2 separate regions of the Homo sapiens genome follow, and region 1 is linked to region 2. Evidence: fine-mapped expression QTL. A gene starts in region 2. The other region holds a variant in brackets. All regions are shown on one strand. Distances are between the middles of the regions.

What was found. PIP is the estimated chance that this variant, and not a neighbour inherited with it, causes the effect. A credible set is the group of variants that fine-mapping cannot tell apart.
Region 1: its variant is the best candidate, but not a certain one, in a credible set for the expression of CDYL in monocytes after LPS (Fairfax 2014, PIP 0.55).

The regions. Positions count from the first base shown.
Region 1 is chr6:4,598,484-4,602,868 of GRCh38, forward strand. No RefSeq gene overlaps it. Among named protein-coding and RNA genes, the nearest start is that of KU-MEL-3, 9.9 kb to the right of the region's middle. The variant A/G (reference allele first, on the strand shown) is at 1,893.
Region 2 is chr6:4,774,724-4,779,108 of GRCh38, forward strand. CDYL (chromodomain Y like) reads left to right here and starts at 1,681. Exons shown (of 7, transcript NM_004824.4): 1 at 1,681-2,084. The coding sequence starts at 2,061. CDYL-AS1 (CDYL antisense RNA 1) reads right to left here and starts at 703. Exons shown (of 2, transcript NR_183279.1): 1 at 549-703; 2 at 1-34. RefSeq lists an enhancer at 372-1,025 and silencers at 833-1,462, 1,483-2,032.

The DNA of each region.
Region 1 (4,385 bases), 180 kb before region 2:
GGCTCTAAACCCTTGCTGACGATTAGTATTTTCAGAATTTTTAGTTCTTTCCTGTCTCCTGTGTAAGGCTATCTCATTGTAGTTTTAGTTTGCATTTTCCTGATGACTAATAAATTTGAGCCACTTTTTCATGTTTGTTGACCATCTGAATTTCCTCTTTGGTTTTGTGCCTGTCTAATAAGCCCCTTTTCTTATTGGGTTATTTCTTTTCCATATTAATCTGGTTAAGTTCTTTCTGTATATTTGAAATCCTAGTCATTTGTCAGTATACGTGTTGCAACTGTCTTCGCCCACCTGATGCTTGTCTTTTCACCCATTTTACAGTGTGCTGTACACATCTGTTCCTCTAATTGAGTTCTGTGCTTACAAACTGAGAACTGTGTTTGTCCACAAGCCCATTGAAGTGGGTGGTGAATGTTATTGTCATTTCCATAATAACTTGAATGCTTTGGGAAAACTTTATAAAGCTTAGTTGTTTAAACTCTTATATAAACTGATAGTGATATAGATATAGATTTGATATAGATATGGAATTAGGTGGGGCAATGCAATTATGAAAGAATTGGGCTTGGGGAAGGGTCAGGAAACCTAGAAGGAATCTGCATTCATTGTTCTTCTTAAGTGTCTCTAAGATCTCTAAGATTTCTAACAAATTCTATGTTAAAGACTCTGAAACTGGAATTTGTAAATGATGTACTTTGAGTGTGGTTTATGTAAGAAAGACCATGCTGAATTCTCAGCAAACCTAAGTACGAAGAAAGAATCTGATGATTGGTGAATAAATAGAGTATAGAAGCATCATTCTAGTAATTTCCCACTTTAATTTTTCAAATTAATTATTCAATGATTAGTTTCACTCATATCAAACAAGAGGGCTATATGCCAGCACAAATTATGATTTACAATTATTTCTTATACTAAATTTAACATGTTAAGATACATAAACATCCTAGTATTTGCATTTCGGTTTGTTTTTTGTTTTGGGTTTTTTGTTTGTTTTTTGGTTTTGGAGTTTGTTTTTTGTTTGTTTGTTTGAGACAGAGTCCCGCTCTGTCACCCAGGGGCTAGAGTTCAGTAGCATGATCTCGGCTCACTGTAACCTCCACCTCCCAGGTTCCAGCCATTCTCCTGCCTCAGCCTCCCGAGTAGCTGGGATTACAGGCGTGCACCACCACACCCAACTAATTCTTGTATTTTTAGTGGAGACAGGGTTTCACCATGTTGGCCAGGCCGATCTCAAACTCCCGACCTCAAGTGATCCGCCCGCCTCGGCCTCCCAAAGTGTTGGGATTACAGGCATGAGCCACCACACCCGGCCATGCTTTTTGTACTGTGGTAAATATACATACCATAAAGTTTTAACCATTTTTAAGTGTAAATTTCAGTGACATTAAATACATTCACATTGTTGTGCAACCTCCAGCACCATTTTCAGAACATTTTTCATCTTCCCAAGGTGAAAATCTGCATCCATGAAGAAGTAACTTCCGATTACCCAGTGAGTGCCCCAGTCCCTGGCAGCCACCTTTCTACTTCATGTCTCTAGGAAGGTGATGACTCATGTAAGCGGAATCATACAGTATTTGACCTTTTGTATCTGGCTTATTTCACTCAACACATTGTCCTCCAGGTCCATCCATGTTGTAGCATGTATCAGAATGTCCTTCCTTTTTAAGGTTGAATCACATTCCTTTGTGATATGTCACTTTTTTTTATCCATTCATCTGTTGGTGGATACTTGGTTTGTTTCCATCCTTTGGTTATTGTGAGTAATGCTGCTATGAACATGGGTGTACAACTATCTGTTTGACACTCTGCTTCCAATTCATCTGCATATGTATTAGGAAGTAGAATTGCTGGATCATATGGTAATTTTACGTTTAATTTTTTTG[A/G]GGAATGCCATATTCCAGTATTTGCTTTTAACGTGAAGATTGTACAGCATCAGAATGTGTGTAAACCCCCGTCTCACAGGATCCAGCCATATAGGCCGTATTGCCTCTCAATATTGTCTTAGAAACGAATCTTGGATCCTAGAGCAATCTGACAGCAAGTCGGAAGGGATTCTAGAGGTCATCTAGCCCAACCTCATCGTCTTATCAAAGAGGATGTGGCAGCCCAGAGAAGTGATGCGACTTGCCCATGGCCACACAGTCTGTCGGGAAGAGAACCAGGGCAGAGCCTGGGCCACAGCCAATACTGTGTCCACAAGACCACAGAATATATGCCAGAAAAAGCAGGTGCTCAAATCCCTGAAATCACAACGGACATGTGGCCCCCTAAGAAGGAAGTGCTCTGGATTGAGTTCACCCTCTCCCTGCACGGTTGCAAGGGTAGGGCCTGCCCCACTGCACAAGCCCTGGGTGCTGGGCCTGACAGATGCTCTAATGGCCTCATGAGCCACCACACCCTAGGTCCGGCCTACCTTGCCTGGTGCCAGCCAGTCAGTTCACACCAGGGAGGCCAGGCCCAGCTGCACACAAGCCTGCTTCCTTATTGTCCTTTAGGGCGTCTCCTGTGATGCCTGCTCTGCCTGCTGGTCTGTGTTATTCTTGTCAATGGCCCATCCTTTCCTACCGAGTCTGAAACACACACACACACACACACACACACACACACACACAGCAGCTTCTGGAAGGCTTGCCATGTCTTCATCACCTGTCTCAGGATGGGCTGAGCTGTTGACAAAATGCAAAATAAGTGAGTTCTCTTTCTTCTCCCTTTTAATTTTCTTTCCTCCACACTTTGGCTGCCTTCTCCAAATTCCCAAAACTCTGAGGTAGTCCTCAGGATACCAGGAGCTTCTCACCACAGCATTCAACCTCAGCCACATGACCTCTATGGGCAGGAATTTTCTCTCCAAACTTGCCCTTCAGAAACTGAAACATTCTTTGTCTTTCTTGCTCTCAGTCAGTTGCCATATTGGAAAGCAGACCAATACAAATTTTTTTTCCCAGTGACAGTAATGAAACTATCTCACACATTGTCAGACGGACTTTGTTGTACAAAAATCAATTTCTTGTCCATTATCTCAAATGATCCCAACCTCAGTACTGTAGAAATATGTGAGGAAAAGATGAAACTCATCATTTCATTGACAAGAACACTGGTGTGCACTGGGCCCAAGAGCATGGAATTAAGACTCTAGGCCTCAGAGGACTTTCATGCTGTATTACGGAGTTCTACAAGGGATCACGCCAGACAACAGGCAAATGGACAAATCATCATGGATTCTAAACACTTCAGCACAGGACTCTTGGGGATGGCATAGTTTGGGAAAGGAGTGGCTCTTCAAGGAACCTTGCTGAGCCTCAGCTTTCTCAACTGAAGATGAGGCCAGCATCACCCCCAGGAGCATCACGAGGGTCGGTGGAGCCCAGGGTGAGGTACACTGGGGACCTGCAAGAAACTGGGAACTGCATGGATTTGGGAGGACTCATTGGGGCACAATAGGAGGGTCTCTTCTGTAAGGTCTTTCAAATCCCACCAAAATACTGGATGCCTAAGACTTGGAACGTCAGAGCCTTACCTTAGGGCAACAGCCTCTTGCGGAAGTACCTGGGCCCTGAGCCGGGTGGATTCCAGTTCCCCTGTAACAGCCTAGATGAGGGGCCAGGGGTTGAGGAAGGTGCAGGCCACAGCTGCAGAACGAGTGCTGTTGGGGTGTGTATGCTCCTGCAGGCTGAGGCTGTGTGCCACCCATGCAGGTGCTGCCCATGCTCCTCCCTGTGAATGCGCAAAGCAGAGGAGGCTGCAACTGTTAGAAGATGCGAAGGAGGTGGGGGAAGTTACATCTCCTCTCCCACCTCTAGAAATCCTCTTCCAAATGCACCAGAATGCAGAGATGGAGGTGAGGACTCCAGTGTGACCTGCGGGGCCCAGGCACAGCTGCCTTTCTCAGCAGCGGTGGCTTTTCCATCAGCAAGGCACTGGATGCTCTGGGGAAGGAGGTGTGCATGGCTTTATTTTAAACCACTGCCCTGCCCCTCCCTAGTTACAAGGAAACTTGCTGAGTCTCAGCTTTCTCAACTGAAGATGAGGCTAACGTCATCCATGGCAGCGTAATGAGGGCCGGTGGAGCCCAGGGTGAGGTGCACTGGAGACCTTCAAGAAACACTTCTTTGAGAAGACTGTTCAGGAGCCTGGTAGGTTGCCTGGATTCAAGCAAAGGGCTCTGTGGGTGGGGTAACAACATCGCTCGCTAACAGATGAATGGGGAGTCCTTTTTCTAATTAACCTCCAGGCAACACTCAAGTTGTGTTTTCAATCCAAGCTATACAATATAATACCTGGGGTGTCTGAAGCCCTCCCCCAGAGATTCTGATGCAATCATCAGTGGAAGTCCCAGCATGGGGACAGTGAAAGCTTCCCCAGTGGCTCTAACATGC
Region 2 (4,385 bases):
TTTGGAGTTGGGGTGGGGTGAAGAGTAGACAAACCTTAAAATACAGAGACGAGTGCTGCAGTGAGCACGCGTGAGTGCTTAGGCAGCGCTTGAAGAGGGAGTTACCGATTTGGCCCTGGAAGTCAGGAAGGCTATCCTTTTAAGGTGATCCCTGAGCTGGGAGTTTGTTTCAAACGGTGGGGACCGCAGGTAGAAGCACCGCTTAAGGGGAACGGCGATTCGACTCGCAGTGACTTAAGGGTTGGCGTGGTGCTTGTTCCTGGGCGTGGGGAGGACAGGAAACCGCGGGGTCTGTGAGACGCCCCGTGGTTGTTGAAACGCTGTTGGGGGGCACAAACGAATAGGGCTTTAGGAAGAAAACTGGTGGGAGGAGCCTTGTGGCTCCAAGGTAGGTTAGGAACTGGAGCGAGATGGAGCACGGAGGAGTGAGGCGGCCCGAAGGATGCCCGGGGAGACATGGAGGAACTGGCGAGGGCTTCCCGATGCAGGGCCTGGGGGAGAGGGTGAACTAATGCCTCTGCAGTGCCCCGTGGGGAAGTTCCGCATACTCGGCCAGAGTGATCGGAGTTGGCGGCTGTCTGGGGGAGTTGGGTCAGGAAGCCCCTTCTTTCGCCACCGATGGGGCACGTCCAGGGCCCGGCAGGTGTGCCCTGGCAGTAGATCTTCCCTGGGAAGTGGAGCGCGGGCCAGCCCTCGCTGTTCTGAGCGAGGGCCTGTCGTGTAGTCCACACCGTTCCGCGAAAGGAACCACCATTGACAGCCTCGTTCGATTAGAACCCGGACCTCCCTGGAATCCAGACTCGGTCCCTTCCCAGCTGCGCTTCGGAGGAGGCGGACGCTCCGAGAGGAACCCAGAGGCCTGGCGTGGGGGGAGCTGCGGGCAGAGCGGAGGCAGCCGCGCCCTCGCGCCGCCCTCCGCCGCGCCCGGCTCCCGCCCCCCGGATCCCACCCCCGGCCTGCCGCGGAGCCAGCGTGCCAGCCGGAGCTCGCCGGGCCACCCCGCGGGGCGCGCGGCCCGGGCTCCGGGTCTTGGCGGCGGCCGGTGGGGCGGGCATGGGGTGGGGTGGGTGCTCCACCTGGCCACGCCGCCGGCCCTTCGCGGGCTGGCCCGGCCCCGGACGGGCGGGCGCACGGAGGCCGCCTCTTGGGCTCCTCCTGGAGGGAGGCGCGCGGTAGACGGCGCGGCCGCTGCCGTCGGGGCGGTGGGCTCCAGACGCGGGCCGGCTCGCTCGCATGGTTCCCTGCCCCATCTCGGGTCCGTCGCTGCCCGTCCTGGTGTGCACAACCGCGCTGCGCCTCGAACCTCGAGGTCCAGGTCCCGCCTGCCCTGGGCCGGGCCGCAAGCGCCCACGTCGAGGCGGGCTGGGGGGCGGTGCCGCGGGCCAGGCCGACCCCGCAAGCGGGACTGGGGAAGTCGGAGCCCCGCCCACCACCCCGCCCCCCGCGCTCGCGGCCCCGCCCCCGACTGCCCCGCTCCTCCCCTTCCTGCCGGCTCGCTCCCGGCCCCGCCGGCCGCCCGCCTCGGCCCCGAGCGGAGCCCACTGCTCCCCTCGGCTGCCCCGCCCCGCCGCCGCCCCGCCCCTCCCGCGCGGGCGGCCCGAAAACCCGGAGCGCGGGAGCGCGGCTCCGCAGGGCCGGGCGGCCGCACTGGGCATGCTCAGTAGCCGGGGCAGGTTTTTTGGTCGCAAGTAGGAAGCTTTCTGCACTACACCGGAGAGGGGAGCCGCGATCCGGCCGCGCCGCCCGCACGCCGCCGCGCCCGCCCCAGCCCGCCCGGCCCCGCGGCGGGGCGCGATGAGCCCGAGCGCGAGCCGGCCCGCCGGGGAGTGAGCGCGGGGCGCCCAGGGCGCGTTGCGTAGCTGCTCCTGCGCACAACCCCGCCGCGCCGCCGGCCCGCACTGGCCGCGGAGTGCAAGAGGCTCGTCCGTGCCCAGCGCCCGGCCGGCCGCGGGAGCAGGAAGCGCAGGCCACGCAGGACCCAACTGAAACAAAGTGTCGGCCGCCCGGCGCCGGCGCCCGCCCCGACCCTGCCCCTCCCGCCCGCAACTCCGCCGCCCACCATGGCTTCCGAGGAGCTGTACGAGGTACCTCCCCTCCCCCCGGCCTCGGGCCGCCCCCCGCCCGCCGCCCCTCCCGGCCCGGCCGCGCCGCCCGACGGCCCCGCTCGCCGCCCGCGCCCGCCGCGTCCCCTCCCCCGCCGCGGCCGCAGTTTGCTGGACGGGAAATGTGTGTGAGGGGAGCCCGAGCCTCCGTTCCGAGGGGCCCCGGCCGGGGGGTCCTGAAGTTGCCGGGCGTGGGGTGGGGGGGGGGGTCCCAGCCGTGGGGAAGTGGTGCTGACACAAGTGACTTGCTCGGACTGAGCTCAAAGTGCTCTTGGCGTGGGTCGTGGAAGTGGTGCCTCCGTTGCCGCTCGGCGGGGACCGTGGGCGGTACGGGGGGTGGGGTGTGGGGGGGTTTCTGGATCATTTGATAAAGCATTTGGGAGAGGGTTTTGCCCCTGGTCGGGGGGTGGCGGGGAGAAGACCGGTGCAAACGCTTTCGACTTTGCTGTTCGCCAAAGCGATGCAAAATCTCGCACCGAAAATGCTAAACGTTGACCACATGCTTTAATTAGGTTAGCATTGTGGCCAGAGCCAGGAAATTTAAATTTAACGCTGATACACCGTCATTCATTTGCGCCGCAGCGTTGCAAATGAGAAGGGCATAGCCAGAACTGTAAGTTCTGGTCGATGGGTTTAAACCAGCTTCAAGTTTGAGAGTTACCAATTTGGATCTTTAGACATGTTTTGTATGTCTCCATGTAACTTCTTTTGACGTATTTCAAAGTAGACTTCCTGGGAGTACAGAAGTTTGGAAGGCTTTCTGTTCTTCTGGATAAATGATTCTCTTGTTTCACATGTATTTATAAATAAGTTCCTAAGAGACTTAAAACTTGCGAAGACTCTCTAGACTCACCTTTATGATGCGTTTAGGGACCTGGGTGTTGAGGGACTTAAGGAAGCATCTGTAACAAGTAGAGCCCTGTGGCCCCAGGGATCCTTTCAGTTGTCTTCTCTTATGGGCGTATTATTGCTGTTGGCATAGAATAGAGCTTTGTTGTCTGCGATGTTAGTCTTCTAGCAACTTTTTTGTTGCTTTTTAAGAGCAAGTGTTTGCAGAAGTTCTCAGGAGGAAGCTGCCATCTGTAGAATTAAGGGTAAGGTTGTTGCTTCTCCTTACATTGTATGTGGTCAGTATACCTTAGCTGGTACTGAAAATGTTCCATTCTTTTCAACCATTTTACACATTAGCTGTGCCCCGCTGTATTCAGGATACTATTTTAGGTCATTTGGGGATGTAAAAGAAGAAAAATCTCCCTGTTCTCAGGAGCTTTCCTTCTAGGAAGGAAAGTGTTGTGTGTCTGGAAGACACAGAAATGGAGGCTAGGATGTTTGAGGTTGAGGTCTTCCAGGTGAAGTCTGTACAGGGGGAAGTACATAGCATGAGGGTATGGGGGATTTTAGTTTCTACATTAGATCATTCTTTGGTTGTTTAGTCATGAGTGTTCACTCTTGGCATTTGCTTTTATGAGTATGATTACATAATCAGTTCCATCAGTGGATGAGAGTAGCACCTTATACGTAAGTTGTATCCTATGTGTGTAAGAATGATTCTGAAGACAGCACATTTCCCATTAGTATATTATGAACTAAGTTTAGTTCCTTCTGTGCTTATTCTATATCTTCAGGTTTCTGTTCCTAACAGAAGTTATTAATGAGTAACATTTTGTACTAAGTTTGTGTTCATTTAACGTTTATTGAATGCTTGCCATATGGAGGTTTCATGGGGAAATACTGAGGTGTGAGAATGGTTCATGCTTTCAAGGAGTGTCTGTTGGGGAGGAAGTAAGTATATTGCAAATAAATGATACACCTGCACAATTGAACTTTTGATTCTGAGTTTTATTTTAGTTTTGGAAAAAAAGGTATTATAGAAGTATAGTTCAGGTGATAAATTTAAGTATGTGTAGTAAATATGTAGTGGTCAGTATCTTTCAAGGCAAAATTTGTAACTTTTCTTTTACTTGTAGGCAACACTGTGACTATGTTACCATTGAAAGTTGACATTGAAAGTTTTGCATGGCAGTTGAGAGCCTAGATTTGGAGTCAGACAACCCAGTTAGTGACTTCCAACTCTATCACCTTGGGTAAATTAGCCTTGAAAGCTCAGTTTCCTCATCTGTGAAATTGGGATCAGTGTTTCCCTTATAGAGCTATGAAGTTTACATGAGAACATATGTAAAGCCCACCCTAAAATTCCCATGGCAAGCACCCAGTAAGTGATGATGATTGTATGGTAACTGGCTTAAAATGCCTCCCTGAAACCTGGTTTTGTTTCTAAAGGTA